3 separate regions of the Homo sapiens genome follow, and regions 2 and 3 are each linked to region 1. The links come from fine-mapping of genetic effects on gene expression. A gene starts in region 1. Each other region holds a variant in brackets. All regions are shown on one strand. Distances are between the middles of the regions. Region 1 holds the start of WDSUB1 (WD repeat, sterile alpha motif and U-box domain containing 1). Region 2 overlaps BAZ2B (bromodomain adjacent to zinc finger domain 2B). Region 3 overlaps WDSUB1 (WD repeat, sterile alpha motif and U-box domain containing 1).

Evidence for each region.
Region 2: its variant is fine-mapped to the expression of WDSUB1 in whole blood (TOPMed, PIP above 0.99).
Region 3: its variant is fine-mapped to the expression of WDSUB1 in whole blood (TOPMed, PIP above 0.99). The same link has a PIP of 0.9 or more in blood mononuclear cells, monocytes, monocytes after LPS, nasal epithelium, nucleus accumbens and sun-exposed skin.

Annotation. Positions count from the first base shown.
Region 1 is chr2:159,283,374-159,291,837 of GRCh38, reverse strand. It overlaps WDSUB1 (WD repeat, sterile alpha motif and U-box domain containing 1), which reads left to right and starts at 5,135. Exons shown (of 11, transcript NM_001128212.3): 1 at 5,135-5,255. RefSeq lists silencers at 5,006-5,175, 4,862-5,301.
Region 2 is chr2:159,358,999-159,367,462 of GRCh38, reverse strand. All of the region lies in intron 27 of BAZ2B (bromodomain adjacent to zinc finger domain 2B), which reads left to right. Among named protein-coding and RNA genes, the nearest start is that of WDSUB1, 77 kb to the right of the region's middle. The variant G/A (reference allele first, on the strand shown) is at 4,293.
Region 3 is chr2:159,250,957-159,259,420 of GRCh38, reverse strand. WDSUB1 (WD repeat, sterile alpha motif and U-box domain containing 1) reads left to right here. Exons shown (of 11, transcript NM_001128212.3): 7 at 1,436-1,476; 8 at 1,557-1,663; 9 at 3,046-3,225. Among named protein-coding and RNA genes, the nearest start is that of WDSUB1, 32 kb to the left of the region's middle. RefSeq lists a silencer at 2,155-2,323. The variant G/C (reference allele first, on the strand shown) is at 4,867.

The DNA of each region.
Region 1 (8,464 bases):
ATGCCAAAGACTGGTAGCATCAAATACTGTATTCCAGACTATAATAGGCAGTAAACTGGAAACATAATCTGTAATTCTGTAAATTGAATTATTGTTGAATGAATTAATTTTTCCGTATCTGTAATATTTTTACCTTATGTAATAAAAACCATAAATCTGGAAACAAAAGTATTTTTTTCAGAAATGCATTAACATCTTGAATTCTCTTGAAGAACATTAATAATAGTATCTGAAAATAAAGAATTTGAGAAAATGAGACAATAAGAAAATGAAAAAATGTAAACTGCAATTTAAAATTTCATAAACAAAAGCTGGGCACGGAGTGGCTCATGCCTGTAATCCCAGCACTTTGGTGGGGGGGCCAAGGGGGGAGGATTGCTTGGGCCCAGGAGTTGAGACCAGCCTCAGCAACATAGTGAGACCCTGTCTCTATACAAATAAAAATCAAAAAATGAGCTGGGGTTTGTGTTGCACGCCTGTAGTCTCAGCTACTCAGGAGGCTGAAGTGGGAGGATCGCTTGAGCCCAGGAATTGGAAAACAAAACAAAAACAAAACCAACAAAACAAAATAAAAATTTCATAAGCAAAAAATATTTCTTGTACCATAAAGGCAGAAAAAGGCACAGTGAGAATTGCAAAAAAATTTTTTAGTGTGTACCAAATACCAAGTTTCATACATGTCATTACATTTCTTTCTGGTATTCTTACTTCCAGCCATATGCATATTTTCTGCTGTCAGGCAGTTCTCACTGTGCCCAATATACACCATCTCATCCCAACCCTCTGTTTTGTTGTTAGGCAGCCCCTGGATCTTTCTTTTTTCCTGTATGGAATTCCAGTTGTTTCTAAAGAACTCTGCTAATTCTTACTACTGGGTTGGCACACAGGGACTCTGAATGGTTTAATGAAAAGATGGCCAGTTCGAAGGTGTAAATTTTACATAGTGGCAAAGGATAAAGCAAATTAAGAGAACATTTTATGATGCAGAAGTTATCTTGCTCCCAGGCAGAGTTGCAGCTTTCCAGCTCCCCAGAGTTCTCTACAAGGAGGTGGCACTGTGGCTCATACCAGATGTGGAGAGTTGATGGTTGCATCAGATATGAGATAATCTCTGGGCAATCTGCCAGGATGTTTTTAAAAACGTCTTCTGCAGTGTAATATACACATAGAAAAAGGCAAATTTCATGCGTTCAGCTTGATATAATTTCATAAACTGAACACCTCAAGGGAGTTTTTATACCTTGAGCTCTACCTTGTCCAACTGTTCTGGAAACTCTGACATTGGGTTTGCCTGCAAAGGAAAACAACCTCAATACATGCCTGAGTATTTCCTGTGAAACTGGGTGTTTCCAAAGCTCACCCCTCAGCCGGCCTAGACTTCAGGTCTAGTTAGCACACATTCTTATGCCCACCTTTTCCAACTTCACAGGCGCCTCTCATCTCTCCGTTAAGCTCTTGTTTACTCAGGACCACATATTTTAGTAATTGGTGGCTCACTCATTGCTTCACATCTATTCGGTTCCCGTTGCCACTGTATTTTGACAACATGTATTGCTTACTATTTAATTGAAAAGTTGGGGAGGGATAGCATTAGGAGATATACCTAATGCTAAATGACGAGTTAATGGGTGCAGCACACCAACATGGCACATGTATACATATGTAACAAGCCTGCACGTTGTGCACATGTACCCTAAAACTTAAAGTATAATAATAATAAAATTAAAAAAAAAAAAAAGAAAAGTTGGTTTTTCTGGTTGGCCGCGGTGGCTCACCCCTGTAATCCCAGCACTTTGGGAGGCAGAGGCGGGCAGATCATGAGGTCAGGAATTCGAGACCATCCTGGCTAACATGGTGAAACCCCATCTCTATCAAAAATAAAAAAATTAGCCGGGCATGGTGGCTGGCACCTGCAGTCCCAGCTACTCGGGAGGCTGAGACAGGGCAATGGCGTGAACCCAGGGGTGGAGCTTGCAGTGAGCCGAGATCGCACCACTGCACTCCAGCCTGGGCGACAGAGCTTGCTCCGTCTCAAAAAAAAAAGAAAAGAAAAGGTGGTTTTTCTTTAAATACATCACTTAAAATTGTTTTCTATATTCTTCAAGTAGCATTATTTTAAGGAGCAGAACAAGAAATTAATGACAAAATGGGATTTTTATCCTTAAATAAGATTTTCTTTTTTTTGAAGACACAGTCTCACTCTGTTGCCAAGGTTGGAGTGCAGTGGCTCGATCTCGGCTCACTGCAACCTCTGCCTCCCGGGTTCAAGAAATTCTCCTGCCTCAGCCTCCTCAGTAGTGGGTATTATAGGTGTGCACCACCACGCCTGGCTAATTTTTGTATTTTTAGTAGAGACGGGGTTTCACCACGTTGGCCAGGCTGGTCTTGAACTCCTGACCTCAAATGATCTGCCCACCTTGGCCTCCCAAAGTGCTGTGATTACAGGTGTGAGCCACCGCACCCAGCCTTAAATAAGATTTTCACAGCTACACAATTAGGGTGAGGAATGCATAAAACATTCAAATCTTTAATATTCCAAATCAAAGGTCTAACTACTTTGGGAGATGTTAACTAAAATATCTTGCCAATATACTATAGAAACAGAATTTATAAAGATACATTTATAAGAATTTATAGATTTGTAGAGTGAACTGGTACAGGACAGAGTGTTAAAGTAGTTAGATCTCTGGAGACCAGCCTCAATGAGGCTTCTATCTTTGAAACTGCCTGTCTCTGTAGGACAGGCAAAGCTGACTATACTGGACATGAGGTCATGGTGCTAAACTACTGGCAGGTGTAGTCACGGGCTTCTTTTATATATTTTACTTAAAGAATATTATAACCAATTTGGCTTATCAAATTAGTGTAGATAGAGGCTGAGGCGGGTGGATAACTTGAGGTCAGGAGTTCGAGACCAGCCTGGCCAACATGGTGAAACCCTGTTTCTACTAAAAATACATAAAGTCAGCCGGGCGCGGTGGCGGGCGCCTGTAATCCCAGCTACTTGGGAGTCTGAGGCACGAGAATCACTTGAACCTGGGAGGTAGAGGTTGCAATGAGCCAAGATCCTGCCACTGCATTCCAGCCTGGGCGACAGAGCAAGACTCCATCTCACAAACAAACAAAAAAACCCACACACAAATTAGTGTAGATAAAAAAGGTATCCCTCAAGTTTGACAAGAAAGTGGAGAGACAAACACAACTACATATTGCTGAGAGTGTAAACTGTACAACCTCTCTGAAGAGCAGTATGGTAATACTTATTAAAACTGTCTACACCTTTATGCCCAGTGATTCCATTTCCTTTTTTTTCTTTTGTGAGACAAAGTCTCACTCTATCCCCCAGACTGGAAGTGGAATGGGGAGATCTCTGCCCACTGCAACCTCAGCCTCCTGGGTTCAAGAGATTCTCCTGTCTCAGCCTCCTGAGTAGCTGGGATTACAGGTGCGTGCCACCATGCCTGGCTAATTTTTTTCTATTTTTAGTAGAGATGGGGTTTCACCACGTTGGCCAGGCTGGTCTTGAACTCCTGACCTCAGGTGATCCACCCAGCTTGGCCTCCCAAAGTGCTGGGATTACAGGCGTGAGCCACCGCACCTGGCCTCCATTTCAATTTTTATCCTAAGTACATATTCATAAATATGGAAAAAGATTTATGTACATAACGTGGTAATATATTGAGGCTAAAAGAAAAAGATTTAGGTACAAAGATATTTAATCCAGCATTATCTACACTAAGATCAAAATTGTTGAAACCATCCAGCAACAGGGAAAATGTTAAATAATTTATGGTATGTTTATATGTAGACCATTATGTAGAAAAAAAAGCTAATGAAATTTTAGACATGGGAACAGCTCATGACACAAGTTTGTTTAAAAAGGCAGTTTCCAGGACTTTTTGTAAAATTAGTTTTTCTGAAAGACTGAGAGAAAATGTTATCTCTGAGTGGGTGATCTCTGAGGGGTGTAATTATTGACTATTTATTTTCCTGTTATATATTCTGTGTTTCCTACAGAGAGCTCTATTATTTATACAATCAAAAACTTGTTTTTAGAAAAATACTGTTTTGGCAATACTTTGGAATGGAATTTGGTGTTCAAAGTCTCAATCATGATGCACTCCGCTAATTTTAAAAAATTAACAAGAACTTCACAAAATCCTAATTTTTAATCTTCCCTTTCCCCTTAATCTTTTTCATTGCAAATAGTTTCCCACGGTCTCAATTTCATCTTTAAATGTGAGCATTTTAGGTCATTACTCTTCAAATGTAACTTCGGTCTCCACAGGCTGATATATTTTTAATGTTTCCTCATGGATTAAAAATAAAAGCTCTCTGTATCTTTGATTTTCATCTGAACATAGTCCCACACTATGTTGTGCATTTAGTTAACAAGTGGTAATTTGCTCAGGAACTTTTTTTTTTCTGGATAATTTTTATCTCAAAAAGCACTGGCAGGGCCACTTTGTAGTCAATGACACGTGGAAACCAGTCTACCGTGAGCCAGTGGGACGCACTGGGAAAGGCTGAAGAAAAGGCGCCCGGGGTTCCAGTGAGCTCAGGATACCCACCCAACGGCAGGGCTGGGGCCCGGGGCAGGCAGCCTGCCCGGGAGAGACCCCTAGGGGAACCCGAATGAGGAGGCGAGGGCAGAAGACGCCAAGTCACGGACCGCCCAGGGTGGCCGAAATAGAGAAGGCCAATCTGGGAGACCGGCCTCGGAGTACACAGTGCAGGGTGGAGAACTGGAGAAAGAGGTAAAAACTTTCAGCAGGGATGGCCGAACATTCCATGCAACGCCCCTTTAAAACGACGTTTCAGGCGATCACTAGGCCTTGCGACCGCAGCTTTAGCAAAAACAGAAAGATTTGCGACGGAAGTCCCTTTCCAAGCCTGAAATCGCCTTGACCCTAGGAGCCAGAAGCTGGGGAGGAACTCGCAGTCCGGGCGGAAGAGCGCGCATGCGCCGCCTCAGGGGCCGGTCCCGGGGGCGGGGCCTGTTCCCTCCGCCCTGGGTCTCCACAGGCTTTCGCGGGGCGGGGCCTACTCCCTCCGCTCTGGGTCACAGCGGGCGTTCGGGGGGCGGGGCCTGTTCCCTCCGCTCTGGGTCCCCGCGGGCGTTCGGGGGCGGGGCCTGTTCCCTCTGCTCTGGGTCTCCGCCGGCGCCCGCCCCGCCAGCCTCACCTGCGCGGCACGTGACCCGCACCGCCCGTGGGCACCTTGAAGGCGGATCCCGCGCGCCCCCGCTCCTGCAGGTGAGAGCGGCCGCGCCCACGGGCCGGCTCAGCGGCGGTGGCGGCAGGTGGGGAAGCGCGGCTGGGCCTGCTCGCGCGGGGCGTCTGAGCCCTCCATTTCCCGGTTCTAACCGCGCAGCAGGGCCCAACCGGGACCTTGAGTGCGGCGAGGCGTGGTTCGTGCACCCTTGGCCCGGGGCTAGGGCGGGCGTGTCGGCGTCGGGTGGAAGGAAGCCCCTTGCGGGTGAGCTCCCTGCCTCCCAGGCCTCCCTCTTGCCTGGGGTCGCTCAGTCCACAGAGGCCCGGCCGCTCATAGAGGGGGGCACATTCCTGGTCTTTCGTGCATGGGGGGTGTAAGTGGCGGACTTTATTTTGGGAGCGCTGGACACCTTTCGGGTTTGCTTTGAATGAGATGGGATTCATGTGTTTACGCTGGCCAACTGACCTGGTGTGCCCGGGAATTTACTGTTCGCGTGACAGCCGAGGCCCGAGGGAACGCCCACACCGCCCCCCCTACCCCAAGGCAGGTCCTGGGTAGGCCTGAGAGCTTTTTCAAAACAAACTGTTCAGCTGACGGTGGCCTCGGTACTTCCCACTGAATGCCCTGGAACTTGCAAAGGGAGCTGAGTGCGGCAGAGGGCTGGGAGCCGGAGTTTGTTTGGAAAATCACCTGTGCGCACTTGCACAGCTGGGATTTGCGAGCTCTCCAGAAAGCACCACCTGGTCTTGATTGTTTTCAAGACAGCAGTACAGGGATAGTCTACCAGAAATTTTCGTGTTTGGTTTTTAGGCTTTATTGGAGTTTATGTTCGAAGAAAAGAAGCTGAACTTATCCTAAAAGGATAAGATGAAGATAGGGAAAGGCATGCTCCTTATGCCTTAATATTTGTTTGATTGATTGATGGGGTCCTGCTCTGTTGCCCAGGCTAGAGTGCAGTGGTGCAATCACAGCTCACCGCCGGCGTCACCTCCGGGGCTCAAGTGATGCTCCCGCCTCAGCTTCTCGAGTAGCTGGGACTACAGGTGCTCGCCACCACACCCAGCTAATTATTTTTATTTTTAGAGAGATGGGGTCTTGCCTTGTTGCCCAGACTGGTCTTAAACTCTTGGGCTCAAGTGTTCCACCCATCTCGGCCTCCCAAAATGCTGGGACTACAGGTGTGCACCATCGCGCCCAGACTTTTTTTTTCTTTGGTAGAGGTGTTTCCGTAAATAAGACTAGGACAAAGGATTATCAATTTTACAAGTCAAGGTTATACCTGCCCCTTTCAGAGCTGATTCTGCCTCACTTGACACCAGTTTTCCACCGTCAGTTATGTTTCTGTGTGTGTATATATATTTAGTCTTGGTAGATTTTCTAATTTCATATTACATATGGATTATTTAAAGGCTGGAACTCAGTTGGGCTCGAACAAAATAAATATTCAACTTATATTTATTTAAGTACATTAGGTGCCTGACAGTTTTACATGGTGTGGATACAGAAATGAGCAAGATGGCAAAGTACCTACTCCTTTGGGATTTACATCCTAGTCGGAGGAGACAATTTAACAAATATCCGATGCTGGTGGTAATTGCTGAGAATATAGAGTGATGTGCTAGCCTAGGGAGTGGCTACTTTAAATAGGGAAACCGTCTCTGAGGAGAGACACTGAAATTGAGATCTAAATGACAAATAGGATCCCAAGAGCAGAGGCAAGAACATTTCAGCTTGAGAAAACCGCTTTATGGAGACGGAAGACTGTTAGGCCAAGGAGGCTGGAAAGAAGAGAGGGACAGTGGCCAGAGTTGAGATCTGAGAAGTGGGCAGGCGGGAATTATATAGGATTTTGATTACATAAGACTGTATAGGATTTTGTTTGCCATGATGAGTTTGATTTTATTCTAAATTTGTAAATTTGTTCTTGAGCGTGGTCTGGCTAAGTTCATTTTTTGACACTTTCTTAGGTTTTCTTTTCTTGGTTTCCTTGATTCATTCAGAGGTGGTTCCTCACCTCAAGTCTTTTGTATAATTTTACTATTTATCAGACAGGATGACAAACCATGATAGGACAGCTTTCAACATGGTCACTTATTAATAAATTTTCAATGAGACTTTTGTTGTTTTTTTTTAAGAGCAAATCCTACAGTTTGATTTTAAAGGCGGAGCAGATAGCCTTGGCTCCATCCTGTGAAGGGAACAGCTAAGATAGTTTATTAGAATAGAAAATACTTTTTGAGTTGAGATGAGCAGATCTGGAGTGAGGTATTTTTGAGAACTCCTTATGAGAAAGGCTTCAAAGGTGAAATAAACACCTTAGGTTTTGAAAGCTCAACATCAAATCAGTTTGAAGTTATTTGACAGTTTGAAGGTTCTTTTTGAGGAGTTGTGGAAATTTATTGGTATGACAACGGTGGTTGTGAGAATCAGAGGTTATAGTCTTATAGATTTTTTTTTCTCCAAATTGTTCTTATCCCAGGTAACAGGTTGTCCTTTAAAACAGAGCTCCCTTGGCCGGGTACGGTGGCTCACGCTGGTTATCCCAGCACTTTGGGAGGCTGAGGTGGGCGGATCACTTGAGGCCAGGAGTTCAAGACCTGGCCAACATGGGGAAACCCGGTCTCTACTAAAAATACAAAAAATTAGCCGGGCGTGGTGGGACATGCCTGTAATCCCAGCTACTTGGGAGGCTGAGGTGGGAGAATCACTTGAACCCGCGAGGCGGGAGTTGCAGTGACCTGAGAACATGCCACTGCACTCAAGCTTGGATGACAGAGGGAGATCCTGTCTCAACAAAACAAAACAAAAACAAAACATAGATCCCCAACCCCCAGGGCCGAGGACTGGTACCCATCATGGCCTGTTAGGAACTGGGCTGCACAGCAGGAGGTGAGGGCATGAGTGAGCTCCACCTCTTGTCAGATCAGCTGCAGTGTTAGATTTTTTTTCTTTTTTTTTTTTTGAAGGCGGAGCAGATAGCCTTGGCTCCATCCTGTGAAGGGAACAGCTAAGATAGTTTATTAGAATAGAAAATACTCTATTTTCTAGAACTCTAGAGATGGAGTTTCGCTCTGTCACCCAAGCTGGAGTGCAGTGGCACGATATCAGCTCACTGCAACCTCCTCCTCCCTTCAAGGGATTCTTCTGCCTCAGCCTCCCAAGTAGCTGAAACTACAGGCATGTGCCACCACACCCAGCTAATTTTTGTAGCTGGGGCTCCAGGCATCCACAAACCCTATTATGAACTGCG
Region 2 (8,464 bases), 76 kb before region 1:
ATCAGACATTGGATTACCTTCACAGAAAAATATTAATTAAATTAAATTCGTGTTGTACAAGAGGCAAGGTAATATATACCACAAGCATTACACACAGTGCTAATAACAATAATGTTTATTGGTGATGATAACTTCAGATAAGTAACAGAGCACTCAGGGGATCTCTGAGCCCCTACAGTGGTTCCACAGGGGTGTGCCTTGTCCAGTTAGAGACTGGACAAGAAACAAGATCACTCAAAGAGAAGGCTCTGCCTTCATACCACTATATATTTCGAGGTTAGTCCAAGTCCTTCATTATTCTAAGAAACAACATATATCTCAAAGGACCTCTGGGCCTAGGAACAACACTAGGGAGTTTGCATTACAAAGGACCAGGATCTACAAACCAAGGACTTTGAGAACAGCAGCTAAAGACCCTACTGTTCCTCTGCACATCAGCTCGGTGGCTAAGCAGGTTTGCTGATGGGTCTTGGGAACAAGAGAAGGAAGAGAGCCCCCATGCCCATTTAGCTAAGACTGAGGGTTTATTCCTTCTCAGTCCACCCCCTGACCCTTGGTGTGGCTCACTAGATATATGCGTCCCCATCTGCAATAGAAAGCAATTAGATTTTAAATGGTGCCTTCAGTGTTTGTTGACAGTGCTGAAAGAGTCATATAGCCAGAGAAATTCTAAAACAAACAATATACCACAGCATTAGGAGATACAGAGCTCCCATGAGCAATCTGGCTGCATATCCAACAAAAAGTCCAAAGCTATGCAATTCTCTAATATTACTCATGTCAAGGAAGCAATACTAATTTCAGTGATATGATCCCAGGCTTTCTCAATGGCAGCGTTTCCCATGATAGCAATTGCTGGTCATATCCTCAGCTTCGTAGGTGACTATTCAAGGCAAGAGCCCTTGTACAAAGTAATGAAAGCTTGTATCCTTGACACCTGCAGATAGGCTCTAATGCTAGCCCTGGAGACCACAGCTGGAAAAGTGACCAGTGTCTTAGATTTTGAGTCACTATTAAAGGTCTCATAGTACTTCCAAAATGTGCAGTGTTATTTACAGGTGGGAGGCAGGGTAAGCATGCCTTTCACATAAGACGACAGGTTCCACTGGATTACAGAGGTTTAATGCTACATTTTATATCCACTTGGCATTTATGTTTTTCTGGGGTTAACACACTGTCGGCATGCTATTAGACTCAACTGCAGGTCTGAAGTGGAAGTATTTGGTTGAGAGTTTTATGCTGCTTTGGGGTTCTCCTAATGTGGGGCATGGATCCACTGGGAGCCGAGATGTAAGAGTAGGTGTTTTCTGCACCTGAGAAGTTGAGTAGAGTTTTACACAGCATGACTAGTAAGGGAAGAGTTAATGGAGGGCCAGGGCAAATGAGAACTCTGGTTAATACCAGGTAGGAGTAATTCCCATGGTGTTATCTGGGAGTAGAATTTCCAGAAGGTCCTCCACAGTTGAGTATGTTAAGCATAACAAATCCCACATTGTGATAGCTTTGCACTGTCATTGTGTGGGATCGCTGCAGAGGATTATTTGGTACAGTCTGTTAATATCTGCAAGAAAGGTGAAGAGAGAGTTATTCATGCTCCAACCACACTTTCACTTTTTTTGGTCAGGCACGTTTATGCCCAAGCACAGTCCATCATTATCTTTAAGGACAACCTATGTGGTCTGTTCTTTCTTTCTGCAACAGTAAGTTCCACATGAAAGCAGGAGTTGCACTTTCTCACCAGAGAAACTCTGTGGATAGAGTATACTATATGGGTATAGAGACTGCAGCAAAATCTCCCACTTGCAGAATAAGCATACAACAGAAATTTAGAATGTTTGGAATAAAGAGAGAATCAAAATTGCCCTTCTGTAGGTGTAGCTAGCAGTGTCATCAGGAAGTCAGGAGAGCATCCAAGTTTGTATCCATCCATTTGTCTGTAATATGAACACACAAACCTCCCAGCCACCTGTTGAAATTATGACAGGTACAACAAAAGGAAATAACTATTGAGGTGTAAAAACTCAGGTCTTGGCATACCAAGTAGATTCTTCGTCTGTTTCTGCTTTTTGACTCCCAGGTGCCAAGGAACTTCACCAAAGTGGAGGGACCTTTATGAGTATAAACAGCAGAGGTCACCCGGACCAGACAATCTTATAGAAGTCATTGTTAAAAGGATGGGTACAGCTGTCTTTCAGAATGCTATTCCAGCATTCTATACTGCCCGTGGTTAAGAACGAGCCTAGAACAGCCACTTAGTACCATGTTGGCAATACCATTCTACATGGTCCCATTGTAGAATGCCAGCAGCTGTGAAAGCACTTTCATTGCTTAATTGTATCATATCTAGAAACCCCAATATATAATAATATACCTAAGTCTTGATAATATGTATGTTATCTGCAAATGCAGGAGACACAGTAACCCCAAAGGTGTATACCATTCATTAGCTAGAGGAGATCAAACACCCAAAAACTAACACATGCCATCAGAGTCTCTGCCTGAGACCAGTCATAGATCACTTGCAGTACTAGTGTCAAACAGAGTTAGGCAAACGGGGTTGTTAAATTGTGAAATGGTGTTGTGCAGTACCCCTGCCTGAGTCTGTTCTTGTATAAGAAATGCAACCTGTTTCACCTCTAGGTGTGCAACACTGTCACACAACGTCTGCCGACCTTGTAAGTATAGTGTCACACAACATCTGCCGACCTTGTAAGTACAGGTGGGTTTTGGCAACATACCTGGCCAACAGTTATAGAAGCTACTAACAGAAGTCACAAAAAATGTCTAACTAAGGGCTAGGCATGGTGGCTTATACCTGTAATCCCAGCACTTTGGGAAGCTGAGGTGGGAGGATTAGTTGAGCCCAGGAGTTCAAGACCAGCCTGGGTAACATGGTGGAACCCCATCTCTACAGAAAAATTAGCCAGGTATACTTCCAGCTACTTAGGAGTTTAAGGTGGCAGAATCAATTAAGCACAGGAGTTCGAGGCTGCAGTGAGCCACGATCGCATCACAGCACTTCAGCCTTGGGGACAGAGCAAGACCCTGTCTCGAAAAGAAAAAAAGTCCAACTGACATGTGGACTTAATTACCCCACCCTGATAAAGAAACAACTAGAATTCACGCAAAAGGTCCAAAAGCCGTTGCAGTGATTGTAATTCTAATCTTTCAGCCATAGGTAACATGGACTCCAAACCCCAGTTGAGGAACTTGTTTACCAGAGCTCTTCTGCAGTCTGGAGCTATGATACTTGGTCCTCCATTTCTAGCAAACCCGTAAATATTGGAGGCTCTTCTCTTTTCCAGCATAATCATCTGGGGTACATGGTTAGGGATCCCTTGGAAGAGAGTAAAGGGGACTGAGCCCACCTGTATTTCTCCTTGAGTTTGAAAGGGCTCAGATTAGGAACAAAGAAGCTTGGCTTCTAGAGTTGACTCAAACTCACAAAGTGGAGCTGATGACTAGGAGCATTCCCACCAGCAATGCCACTTCCAGAGTCAAGATAATGCAGAGTATCTCCCTGTCTCTATGTCCTTTAGATCTTATCAGTTTGTGTGGATGAAGCTCAATAGCCCTCGTCCTCCCCAGGGACCTTCTTCACCTAATCTTCTGGTGACTCCACCTCTCCCAATAATTATTCAAGTCTGTAAACTATTCAGTATCATGTTTCATCTCACATGTCCCTTTTCCACAGTCTCAGTGGGTCTTTTAACTTTTTGAATAGGACTACATTCCCACACTCAAGAATTAGGCCGTCTCTCAATTTCTGTCTTATCATTCCTTCTGTTTATGAGCAATATCACATTTATTGGTGTGAGGGAGATTGCCTGAGTTCAGCCTATCGGTCTACTCCTTCTTTTGTTCCTTCTTTCTTTATATTTTGGGCAGAAACCTGTGCATCTCATGAGACCCTGTCTCTTTCCATTTCCGCCTCTGCTGTGGGGCTTGTATGACCTAAAAAGAACTATTTCATGTCCAACATTGCCTCCCAGATGAAGGAATAAGTCAAAGCAGTTGTCCACTTAGGAGGACCTGCTCTGATTCGGTCATCCAACATTCTCTGCACCAAGAGCATGTTGTCAGGGATTCTCTACTCAAACCCTGGATTTTCTTATAATTACGCTAACACAGCCAGTTGTCTCAGAGTGTGTTAGAGTAACTACACTATCTGTGGATCTAGTCCATTTCACATTCAAGTGGCAGGAAAATCACCCCAATGGTAATACGTATTACCCATGCTACCAAGCATCCAGTTTAGAAGCAGGGTTACAACATCAGCCCCAGTGTTATTA[G/A]TCAACCCAGACTGCTCATTGTTTAACCAGGTCATGTGTTTCCTTTTACTCAGCTTCCCTTAACAACACTGTTGTCTCCTAACCATGCAAATTAGCAGGCCAAGCCTCTACTATCCCTACAGTAGTGGAGCTAATAAGAGTCTTGCTCTTGCTCTGTATAATGCTGGATCTCCTCCTGCTGGTGTTCTCACTCAGGCTCCTGTACACCGTGCCTCACAGTAACTGGCTTCACATACAGCAGGACCAGTTGCCTCATATTACAGATAAACAGTGGGAATTTGCCCCACCTTCCCTTCTAGAGAGACTACCACACCCTTTCTAGTGCACCCTACCAATTTGTACTCCTGAAAATCTCTAAGCTGATAAGGAGAAGAGATAGAACTTAATTTCAAGCCACTGGAAACCCTCTTTACCACTTGAGGGCTTCTGCCATTCTCAGGCGTAGCTACTGAGACCATCCTAACTGCCAAGTGAATTACCACTGTCCCCAGGAGAAATTCTTTGACCCATGGGTTCTCCTCTTTCAGAAAGCCATGACATCGGGACTTTGTTGGGCACCAACTGTAGTACAAGATGGTTACACAAACCACTAACACACATGGTGCTAATAGCAGCAAAGTTTGTTAGTGAGAGTAACCTACAAGCAAAGAAGTAACCGTACACAGGATTCCCAGCCTCCATAATGATTCCACAGGACTTGGACATGCAGCAAGAGCACTCCAAGAGACGAAACACTGTACCCCACACCTTGCCCTGTATGCATTAGTGTGAGAAAGAGTAGAAAGCACTTAATTTCTGAGTAATGATAAACATTATCAAGGGACCTTTGGGTTTAGAAACAGTGCTAGGACATATGCATATCAAGGGTCAAAGTCTACATAGGGAGGACGCTGAGAACAGTGTTGACCTCAGCTGAAGGCCTTCTGACCTGCTGCTGCCTCTCAGGGAAGTGGGAAAGAAGAAAGCCCCTATGGCCTTCCAGCCAAAACCAAGGATTTTTTTTTCCAGTCCAGTTCACTGTTTTTTTTTAATTTGTTTGTTTTTTGTTTTGTTTTCTTTTGTTTCATTGTACTTTAAGTTCTGAGATACAAGTGTAGAACATACAGGTTTGTTACATAGGTATTCACTTGCCATGGTGGTTTGCTGCACCCATCAACCCGTCATCTACATTAGGTATTTCTCCTAATGCTATCCCTCCCCCAGACCCTCACCCCCCCGACAGGCCCCAGTGTGTGTTGTTCCCCTCCCTATGTCCATGTGTTCTCATCGTTCAACGCCCACTTATGAGTGAGAACTTGTGGTGTTTGGTTTTCTGTTCCTGTGTTAGTTTGCTAAGAATGATGGTTTCCAGCTTCATCCATGTCCCTGCAAAGGACATGAACTCATCCTTTTTTATGGCTGCATAGTATTCCATGGTGTATATGTGCCACATTTTCTTTATCTAGTCTATCATTTATGGGCATTTGAGTTGGTTCCAAGTCTTTGCTATTGTGAACAGTGCTGCAATAAACATACATGTGCATGTGTCTTTATAGTAGAATGATATATAATCCTTTGGATATATACCCAGTAATGGGATTGATTGCTGGGTCAAATTGTATTTCTGGTTGTAGATCCTTGAGGAATCACCACACTGTCTTCCACAATGGTTGAACTAATGTACACTACCACCAACAGTGTAAAAGCGTTCCTATTTCTCCACAGCCTCGCCAGCATCTGTTGTTTCCTGACTTTTTAATGATTGCCATTCTAACTGGCATGAGATGGTATCTCATTGTGGTTTTGATTTGCATTTCTCTAATGACCCATGATGATGAGCTTTTTTTCATATGTTTGTTGGCTGCATCAATGTCTTCTTTTGAGAAGTGTCTATTCATATCCTTCACCCACTTTTTGATGGGGTTGTTTATATTTTCTTGTAAATTTGTTTAAGTTCTTTGTAGATTCTGGATACTAGCGCTTTGTCAGATGGCTAGATTGCAAAAATCTTCTCCCATTCTGTAAGCTGCCTGTTCACTCTGATGATAGTTTCTTTTGCTGTGCAGAAGTTCTTTAGTTTAATTAGATCCCATTTGTCAATTTTGGCTTTTGTTGCCATTGCTTTTAGTGTTTTAGTTACCAAGTCCTTGCCCATGCCTATGTCCTGAATGGTATTGCCTAGGTTTTGTTCTAGGGTTTTTATGGTTTTAGGTCTGACGTTTAAGTCTTCAATCCATCTTGAGTTAATTTTCGTATAAGGTGTAAGGAAGGGGTCCAGTTTCAGTTTTCTGCATATGACTAGCCAGTTTTCCCAACACCATTTATTAAACAGGGAATCCTTTCCCCATTGCTTGTTTTTCTCAGGTTTGTCAAAGATCACATGGTTGTAGATGTGTGGCATTATTTCTGAGGCCTCTGTTCTGTTCCACTGTTCTATATATCTGTTTTGGTACCAGTACCATACTGTTTTAGTTACTGTAGCCTTGTAGCATAGTTTGAAGTCAGGTAGTGTGATGCCTCCAGCTTTGTTCTTTCTGCTTAGGGTTGTCTTGGCTATATGGGACCTTTTTTTGGTTCCATATGAAATTTAAAGTAGTTTTTTTCTAATTCTGTGAAGAAAGTGGTAGCTTGATGGGGACAGCATTGAATCTATAAATTACTTTGGGCAATATGGCCATTTTCACAATATTGATTCTTCTATCCATGAGCATGGAATGTTTTTCATTTGTTTGTGTCCTCTCTTATTTCCTTGAGCAGTGGTTTATAGTTCTCCTTGAAGAGGTCCTTCACATCCCTTGTAAGTTGGATTCCTAGGTATTTTATTTTCTTTGTAGCAATTGTGAATGGGAGTTCACTCATGATTTGGCTCTCTGTTTGTCTATTATTGGTGGATAGGAATGCTTGTGATTTTTGCACATTGATTTTGTATCCTGAGACTGCTGAAATAACTTACCAGCTTAAGGAGATTTTGGGCTGAGACGATGGGATTTTCTAAATATACAATCATGTCATCTGCAAACAGAGACAATTTGACTTCCTCTCTTCCTATTTGAATGACCTTTATTTCATTCTTTTACCTGATTGCCCCGGCCAGAACTTCCAATACTATGTTGAATAGGATTGGTAAGAAAGGGCATCCTTGTCTTGTGCCAGTATTCAAAGGGAATGCTTCCAGCTTTTGCCCATTCTGTATGATATTGGCCGTGGGTTTGTCATAAACAGCTCTTATTATTTTGAGATACCTCCCATCAATACCTAGTTTATTGGGAGTTTTTAGCATGAAGGGCTGTTGAATTTTGTCAAAGGCCTTTTCTGCATATATTGAGAGAATCATGTGGGTTTTGTCATTGGTCCTGTTTATGTGATGGATTACATTTATTGATTTCCATGTGTTGAAACAGCCTTGCACCCCAGTGATGAAGCCAACTTGATCAGGGCAGATAAGCTTTTTGATATGCTGCTGGATTCAGTTTGCCAGTATTTTATTGAGAATTTTCGCATCGATGTTCATCAGGGATATTGGCCTGAAATTTTCTTTTTTTGTGTTTCTGCCAGGTTTTGGTATCAGGTATTGACGCTGGCCTTATAAAATGAGTTAGGAAGGAGTCCCTCCTTTTCTATTGTTGGGAATAGTTTCAAAAGGAATGGTAGCAGCTCGCTTTTGTACCTCTGGTAGAATTCGGCTGTGAATCTGTCTGGTCCTGAGCTTTTTTTGGCTGGTAGGCTATTAATTATTGCCTCAGTTTCAGAACTTGTTATTGGTCTATTCAGGGATTGGACTTCTTCCTGATTTAGTCTTGGGAGGGTGTGTGTGTCCCGGAATTTATCCATTTCTTCCAGATTTTTAGTTTATTTGCGTAGAGGTGTTTCTAGTATTCTCTGATGGTAGTTTGTATTTCTGTGGGATCAGTGGTGATATCCACTTTATCATGTTTTATTGTGTCTATTTGATTCTTCTCTCTTTTCTCCTTTATTAGTGTGGCTACCAGTCTGTCTATTTTGTTGATCTTTTCAAAAAACCAGCTCCTGGATTCATTGATTTTTTGAAGGGCCTTTTGTGTCTCTGTCTCCTTTAGTTCTGCTCTGATCTTAGTTATTTCTTGTCTTCTGCTAGCTTTTGAATGTGTTTGCTCTTGCCTCTCAGTTCTTTTAATTGTGATGTTAGGGTGTCGATTTTAGATATTTCCTGCTTT
Region 3 (8,464 bases), 32 kb after region 1:
CTGGATTTAGGGAGAGGCATAAGAAAGGATAGGTTATCATGGACTTGGAAAATGGGAGTTTTTTACTGATCCATGTGTGGGTAAAGACCAAGTTGTGGCCGGGTGCAGTGGCTCACACCTGTAATCCCAGCATGTCAGAAGGCTGAAGCAGGCAGATGGCTTGAGTCCAGGAGTTTAAGACCAGCCTGGCCAACATGGTGAAACCTCATCTCTACCAAAAATACAAAAACTTAGCTGACCGTGGTGGCGCGTCCCTGTAGTCCCAGCTACTTGGGAGTCTGAGGCAAGAGGATGGCTTGAACCCCGGAGGTGGAGGTTGCAGTGAGCCGAGATTGTGCCACTGCACTCCAGCCTGGGCAACAGAGTGAGACCCTGTCTCAAAAATAAAGTAGTTGAAAAAAATATTGTCCAAAAGAAGAAAATGTTGAGTGGAGCCTCCTAATGCTGTAGCTATGCCAGCAAATAAATGGAGATATAAGTAATCAAAGGGTAGCGAGTTAAGCAAGTGATGTAAGCTAGTCTTCCACACAGAAGTTCGAGTCACTGAGTGTTCTGGCAGGAAATGGGAAAGAATACTCAAGCTAGGTGAGGTAAATCTTTAATATTTCTCATGAACGTTTCATGAGATTTTACATTCTCAAAAACAATTATAACACTAAATTGTCTCTGTAAAATATGTATGAGTCCCACTTAAATACACCTAAAATGTTAGATGGACACCTTAGTGTACTCTAAGGGACTAATTTATTTATTTGTTTTTTTGAGACAGACTCTTGCTCCTTTGCCCAGGCCGTAGTGCAGTGGTGCGATCTTGGCTCACTGCAACCTCTGCCTCCCGGGTTCAAGCAATTCTCCTGCCTTAGCCTCCCAAGTAGCTGGGACTACAGGCACGTGCCACCATGCCAGCTAATATTTTATATTTTTAATAGGGATGGGGTTTCACCGTGTTGGCCAGGCTGGTCTCAAACTCCTGAGCTCAAGTGATCCACCTGCCTCGGCCTCCCGACATGCTGGGATTATAGGTGTGAGCCACTGCACCCGGCCAAGGGACTAATTTCTACTCACTGGTCCTGCAATGTATACAAGTCAAATGCCATAGTCAAAAATATGAATTATTTCAGGTAATAGATGTTTAGGTTACTATTAGTAGGTTCAAACAGATGAGCAAATGCCAAGGGTCTACTGTACTAAAAATTTCTAAGGAGGTGGCTAGCAGACAATAATGCCGATAATTGACAAAAAGTGAAGTAAGTACCTGAGAATGCTGTTACAGATGCTGTTTCTGCTATTCATTGAGTAAAGTTTCAACTTATGTTAGTTACTAATAAATATTAATATATCCACTTAGTATACAACCCATTTATGTCAAATGAGTCTTCATCAGTAACTTTACTCTTACTTGAGTAAATTTAAAGCTGTTTTTATTGTTTTTCAGAATACTGAGAATATACTTCACACATTGACTCAGCACACCAGGTCTGAACTTAACCTCACCTTGTATTAATATAATTTAAAAATTAGTCAGAAGATACATAATAGTTGTTTTTATTAACTAGGTATGTCACAACTTGTGCTTTTGCACCTAATACCCTTTTACTTGCTACTGGTTCAATGGACAAAACAGTGAACATCTGGCAATTTGACCTGGAAACACTTTGCCAAGGTTAGTAAGGACATCATTTTTCACTCATTTCAACCCCACTCACCATTAGGGTCAGAAAGTTAGTAAATCGGGCTGGGCACCGCGGCTCACACCTGTAATCCCAGCACTTTGGGAGGCCAAGGTGGGTGTATCACTTGAGGTCAGAAGTTCGAGACCAGCCTGGCCAACATGGTGAAACCCTGTCTCTACTAAAAATACAAAAAAGTAGCTCAGCATGATGGTGCATGCTTATAATCCCCGCTACTCGGGAGGCTGAGGCAGGAGAATCGCTTGAACCTGGGAGGCGGAGGTTACAGTGACCTGAGATCGTGCCATTGCACTCCAGCCTGGGCGACAAGAGTGAAACTCCATCTCAAAAAAAAAAAAAAAAGTTAGTAAATCATTTGACAGGTTATTCACATTGCTTTTATCAATATAAAGTATACATCCAAATTTAATGTCATTTAAAAATAGTTTGGCCTGGCATGGTGGCTCACACTTATAATCCCAGCACTTTGGGAGGCCGAGGTGGATGGATTGCGTGAGCCCAGGAGTCTGAGATTAGCTTGGGCAACATGGTGAAACCCCATCTCTACAAAAAAGACAAAAATTAGCCACACATGGGGGTGTGCACTTGTGGCCCCAGCTACTTGGGATGCTGAGGTGGGAAGGATCACCTGAGCCCAGGAGGTCATGAGGCTGCAGTGAGCTGAGAACACGCCACTGTACTTCAGCCTGGGCAAGGGAGTGAGAACTCATCTCTAAAATAATAATAATAATTTTACAGAAGCCAGTGTTGAAGTGGCTGGGCTGTGTTAAAGCTGTTGGTAAATGCTTTCAGTGCACATTCATGTGTCCCACTCCTCCCATGGTTTCTAAGTTATTTGTTTATACTCCATACTAATTTTTCAGGTAAATATAACCTCAGGACAAAATCGAAATTATCGTTGTATTTTGTTGGTTTTATTTTGGCATCAAGCGACATTGGCACATAATTTAGGAGTTTTATTTTTATCACTGTCAGAATTATCTAAATAGTGGTGCTGATATGCAGATGATGGAGCAAATAGAATACCTTTGCTGGTATGAATTTTATATAATAAAAAATTGTTTTCCTGATGTGAAAAAGAAAATGATCCAAAAGCAAGTTAAAGTGGTAAAACAATTTTTTTTTTTTTTTTGAGACTGGTCTCCCTATGTTACTTAGGCCGGTCTTGAACTCCTGACTTCAAGTGATCCTCCTGCCTCAGCCACTTGAGAAGCTAGGATTATAGGCATGAGCCACTGTACCTAGCTATAAAACACAGATTTAAGGAAATTTCATTTACTTTTAATTCAAAGTGAGAATGTTTATAAAGGAAATACTTTTTTGTTATCTCACTTACTTGTTTGTTTATTTTAAGCAAGGCGCACAGAACATCAGCTGAAGCAATTTACCGAAGATTGGTCAGAGGAGGATGTCTCAACATGGCTTTGTGCACAAGATTTAAAAGATCTTGTTGGTATTTTCAAGATGAATAACATTGATGGAAAAGAACTGTTGAATCTTACAAAAGAAAGTCTGGCTGATGATTTGAAAATTGGTAAGCTTAGTGAAAGATAGGCAATCTTCAAAACAACTTTTACCAAATTACTCTGCAGTTGGATTTTGTTGCATTAATGGTTTCTTCTTAATGTTCTGGCACTACACTAATGACCCATCTTCTTGATTATGGCCATCCTAGCAGCTGTGAAGTGGAATTTCATTATGGTTTTGATTTTCATTTACCTAATGACATGCATCTTTCATGTGCTTATTTGCCATTTATATATCTTCTTTGGAGAAATGTCTGATCAGATCCATTGCCCATTTTTAAACTGGGTTGTCTTTTTATTGTTGACTTTGTAAGAGTTGTTTATGTATTCTGGGTACTAGATCTTTACCAAAAACAAGTTTTGATATCATGCTCTAATAAACATAATTGCCAGACACTATTACTAATATGCTATAGTAAAATTTTAGTTAACCAGAAAGCTCAGGAAATAAGATATTCATGTTGAGATTTATTACTAATGAAGAGTGAAATAACTAAAAATCTTTGTTATAGAAAACCATTTTAAAGTATAGTATTATAAGTATTTTACTTTCCTTACATAGTAAACATAGTACGTGAGCCTATTTAAATCTCTTGGAAGCCTATGGCCTTTTAAGGAGTTAACAGAATGATTTTGTGAAAACACATAAGTGGTTTTGTACTATACTCAGGCTATACTTGAGTACAGTCACTTTTCTTTATTTAATTTAATTTAATTTATTTTATTTATTTATTTTTGAGATGGAGTCTCGCTCTGTCACCCAGGCCGGTGTGCAGTGGCGCGATCTCGGTTCACTGCAAGCTCCGCCTCCCAGGTTCACACCATTCTTCTGCCTCAGCCTCCCGAGTAGCTGGGACTACAGGCGCCTGCCACCATGCCTGGCTAATTTTTTATATTTTTAGTAAAGACAGGGTTTCACCATGTTAGCCAGGATGGTCTTGATCTCCTGACCTTGTGATCCGCCTGCCTCAGCCTCCCAAAGTGCTGGGATTACAGACCTGAGCCACCGTGCCTGGCCAAGTACAGTCACTTTTCTATCTCTTTTTGTGTGGGGGTGGCAGGGTGGGGGAAGAGATAGGAGGGTCTCACTCTGTTGCCCAGGCTGGAGTGCAGTGGTGCGATCACAGCTCACTACAGCCTCGACCTCCCAGGCTCAAGTGGTCTTCCTGTCTCAGCCTCCCAAGTAATTGGGACCACATGCACATGCTACCACGCCCAGCTTATTTTTACAAATTTTTGTAGAGATGAGGTCTCTCTATTGCCCAGGCTGGTCTTAAACTGCTGGGGTCAAGCAGTCCTCCAGCCTTGGCCTCCCAAAGTGTTGGGATTATGGGCATGAGCCACTGCACCCAGCATCTCTCTGTAATAAAACATTTCCTTTCAACTTCCTCTTTCTTCTGAGAGTAGGTAATAGAGTAGGGGCTTTGTTTTTAAAAAAAACTCACAAATTTAGCATCTTAATTTCTTGTTAATCTCTCACAATTAATCTTAAGGGTACCTTATCAAGTAGAATTACTTCACAATATGAAATAATTTCAGATTCAACAAAGGATGTTTGAAAACATAAGAAAAGCATATAGAAACAATAGAAATACAATTCTATTTTTATAACTAGGTAAATAAGGCATTCTAGTTTTTTGTTTGAGACA[G/C]GGTCTCCCTCTGTTGCCCAGGCTGGAGTCCTCTGGCATGGTCATGCCTCACTGCAGCTTCAACCTCCTAGGCTCAAGTGATCCTCCTACCTCGGCCTCGTGAGTAGCTGGAACCACAGGCATGTGCCACCATGCCTGGCTAATTTTTAAAATTATTTGTAGAGATGAGGTCTCACTACTTTGCCCAGGCTGGTCTCAAACTCCTGACCTTAAGTGACCCTCCCAGCTCGGCCTCCCAATGTGCTAGGATTACAGGCATGAGCCACTGTGCCTGGCCAAGAATAAGACATTCTTGTAGGATTCAATTAATGATCAATTAATGATTCAATTAGTTTTTGAAGGATGAGTCTCAGGTTTAGCAGTAGTAATCATTTTACTTCAAAGTTCAGTGAAATGGGTTTTGGAAGTGTCAGGCCCAAGCCAAAATTGAAATACAGTTTAAACAAGTTCTGTGATGGTCTAATAGGTGAATTTGAAAAACCATTAAGAATGGAGACAAAAATGTTGCACATTCTCTAGTAAATAAGGACTCTTAGGCTTGTGTTTAAGATATGGAGATCTAGCAAACTCAACAAATTAGAATAAAGTAGTAAAAATTGACTGTAACATTTATTTTTTATGTCATTCTAATGTATTTTAAGGTTTTTGCAACCTTCATTATAAAGGATCAAGTGGCTAACTTTAATCTTCTATAAATGGTATTGTAAGCTACAATGAATTTCTTTTAGTCCTGAATTTTAAGAAAAATAGACCTCAAAATAGTAAATTGCACTAATAGAGAATTAAATTTGGTCTAGAAACAAATATGTTGAGGTGAACCAATGAGTATATATGCTATTGAATTTTGCTTTTTTAATGCATATCTATTTTACCTGCGTTTGCCTTTGTGATATAACTGTTTAAAACAGCTGCCATGTCAATGTGAATAAATCTGAGTTTAACATTCAGCAAATGGAGGAAGTTGATTAATTGTACAGTAAAGTACATTGGAGGGTTTGAGACCAAAGTCGTATATCTATTATGTTTGACATTTAAATTATTTTTAAGGAATTGAGCAGTTTATCAAATCTTTTTTCAATGAGTCTTTTGTAAATACACAATAAATGAAATTTCTGCAGACTTGAGTATGTTTGACTTTGGAGCTTTACCCAAGGATAATAGTCATTTTCTAGGATTGTGTTAATGGAAGCCTAGGGTACAATAGACGTACAGCTTTAGTTAGGAAATAATTCCTTATATCTAGAACTATATTTGGATAAGGAATGTCTGGACAGAGTACAGGTTCAAGAGATCCTTGATGTTGAGAGGGATATGTCTTAAGACATTTGCTATGAATTTGTGACTACTACTATAACATTTAATATCTCATTCAAAAGGCATAAAGTGTGAAAGGTTAAGAGTAGGAAAGTCACTTTTAGATGTGATATTACGCAACGAGTTGAGTCTACTACTAACTAGCCACACAGCTTCCATCTAGCTACTCATTGGCCTCAGTTTATATCTAGGCCTTGGGAATGCGGCAGATTGCTACGTATCTTGGAGTTTGGAATTGCTATAGAAGATAAAATGATAGAAACTTAAAATGACAAATGCTAAGGAACTATTGTATATCATGTTGGTATTTATGAAATTCAGATAATTATCAACCATAGATGCCTAATTGGGAACGAGATTTTTTTCAAAGGGTTCACTCTTCCATTTGCTCTTCTTTCCAAGAAATCATAAAAGCACATAAGACATTTTTATCATTTTCTAATTTAAAATTAAAACTAGAAATTTAAATACATCACCTGTCTTAGTATCCTCGGGTTTTGAAAGTTTCATGTTTCGGTTCTTATTAATTCGTTATGTAGATTTCACTTGTTGCCTATGTAACTGCATTTATTGTTAAGTAATTGAACATTTACAGTTTTTTTGTTGTTGTTTATATGTGATTAAAGTGAAATAGGCTGTTCAAATCTAGTTACTGTGCAATGACCCCCTGTTGAAAGGGCATAACCCTCCCTGGTCAGCTGCTGTCTGAAGTTGGCCCACTCTCCCTTCCAGTGCTTACTTGTTGGACATGCTGGGGTCTCATTTGCTCAGGCCCATCAGATGTCCTGTTGCTTTCTTCTACACAGATGCCAACCACAGGTCTTTATGGCTGTTAATGGCTTGTCCTCACTCACGTATATTGTAGGGTTCATGAAGATATCTTGCTATCTTGTTTTGTTGGAAATGTCCATGCAATTTGAGTTTATCTGGTTGCTGTTTTTTCAGAGAAATTTAAAAACTATACTGCTTCTATCCTGTTCTTCATACCCTCTTAAAAATTCCTCATGTATCTATAGCTGTGTTTTCCATTCTTAATATAGGTTTCGTGTCTTCTCTTGATCATTCTATGTAGAAATTTGATTTTTTAAATTAATTTTTAATTTTTAAAAAGCAGATTTTTAGCTTTCTTCGTAAGAAACCAGCATTTGGTTCTGTTGTTCTCTGTCAGGGTAGGGGAGAGGTGAGTCAGTGACCAGCTTGGTGGTCTGTGCTTGTTCAATTCCAGGCTCTCGTGCTGTCTTGGTAACTGGCCTCCAGCTGGGGCTGCTGTGGCATCGGTACTTACAGGACAAAGTTGGGAGAGTAAAGGGCACACGTAGGAAGGTCTCTGTCTCATTCATGTACCCACATCTCTGCTCTATGCTGTCATTTCCCAGCTCTCACTCCGGAACCCCGTTACCTTCTGTTTCGTCAGAGGTTTTTGGGGTTGAGTTTTTATATCCGTTAGTTTAGTTTTGTATATTTGATGGTTATTAGTGTCTAGATTCCATCAAACTCTCAGTGATGTAGCATTTCCAGAGTTGGGTGATTTTAACTTGTCATCAAGATGTCTTTTCAGGATTATAGTCAGTAATAGCCAGATATTGCCCAATACTGGTACCGAGGGTTTACTAGCCCTTAGCTGGTAAGGGTCCTTTCTTTCTCAGCAATTAAGTGTATAAGACTTATTCTTAACTCCCAATCACAAAAGGAGATGTTTGGTTCCGGTAGAGCTCTGGGGATGTGGTTTAGTAAACGCTTCCCTGAGGGCAAGATGATCTGACTTCATTTCTAAATGACGTTAGGATTGGAGAAGGATAATGCCCAATTTAACCTTCTCTGGGGAATTTTGAATTAGGCCTTCTGTGTTCTCTGTTATAAATACTAGAAGCATTGTAAGTATTAGCACACATGTAGAATATTTTTGACAGGAAAATATACTTTTTAAAGAATATTAGTTGCTCCTATATTTTTTTCTTTTTCTTAATTTTTTTTTGAGACAGAGTCTCACTCTGTTGCCCGGGCTGGAGTGCAGTGGCATGAACATGGCTCACTGTAGCCTCTACCTCTTGGGCTCTGTAGATTCTCCTGCCTCAGCCTCCTGAGGAGCTGGGACTACAGGTATGCACCACCATGCCCAGCTAATTTTTAAAATTTTTTTTGTAGAGAAAGAGTCTTGCTATGTTGCCCAGGCTGGTCTCAAACTCCTGGTCTTAAGCAGTGCTCCCACCTTGGCCTCTCAAGTGCTGAGATTATAGGCATGAGCCACTACACCCAGCCTCCTTTTCTTATTATGTTATATAAT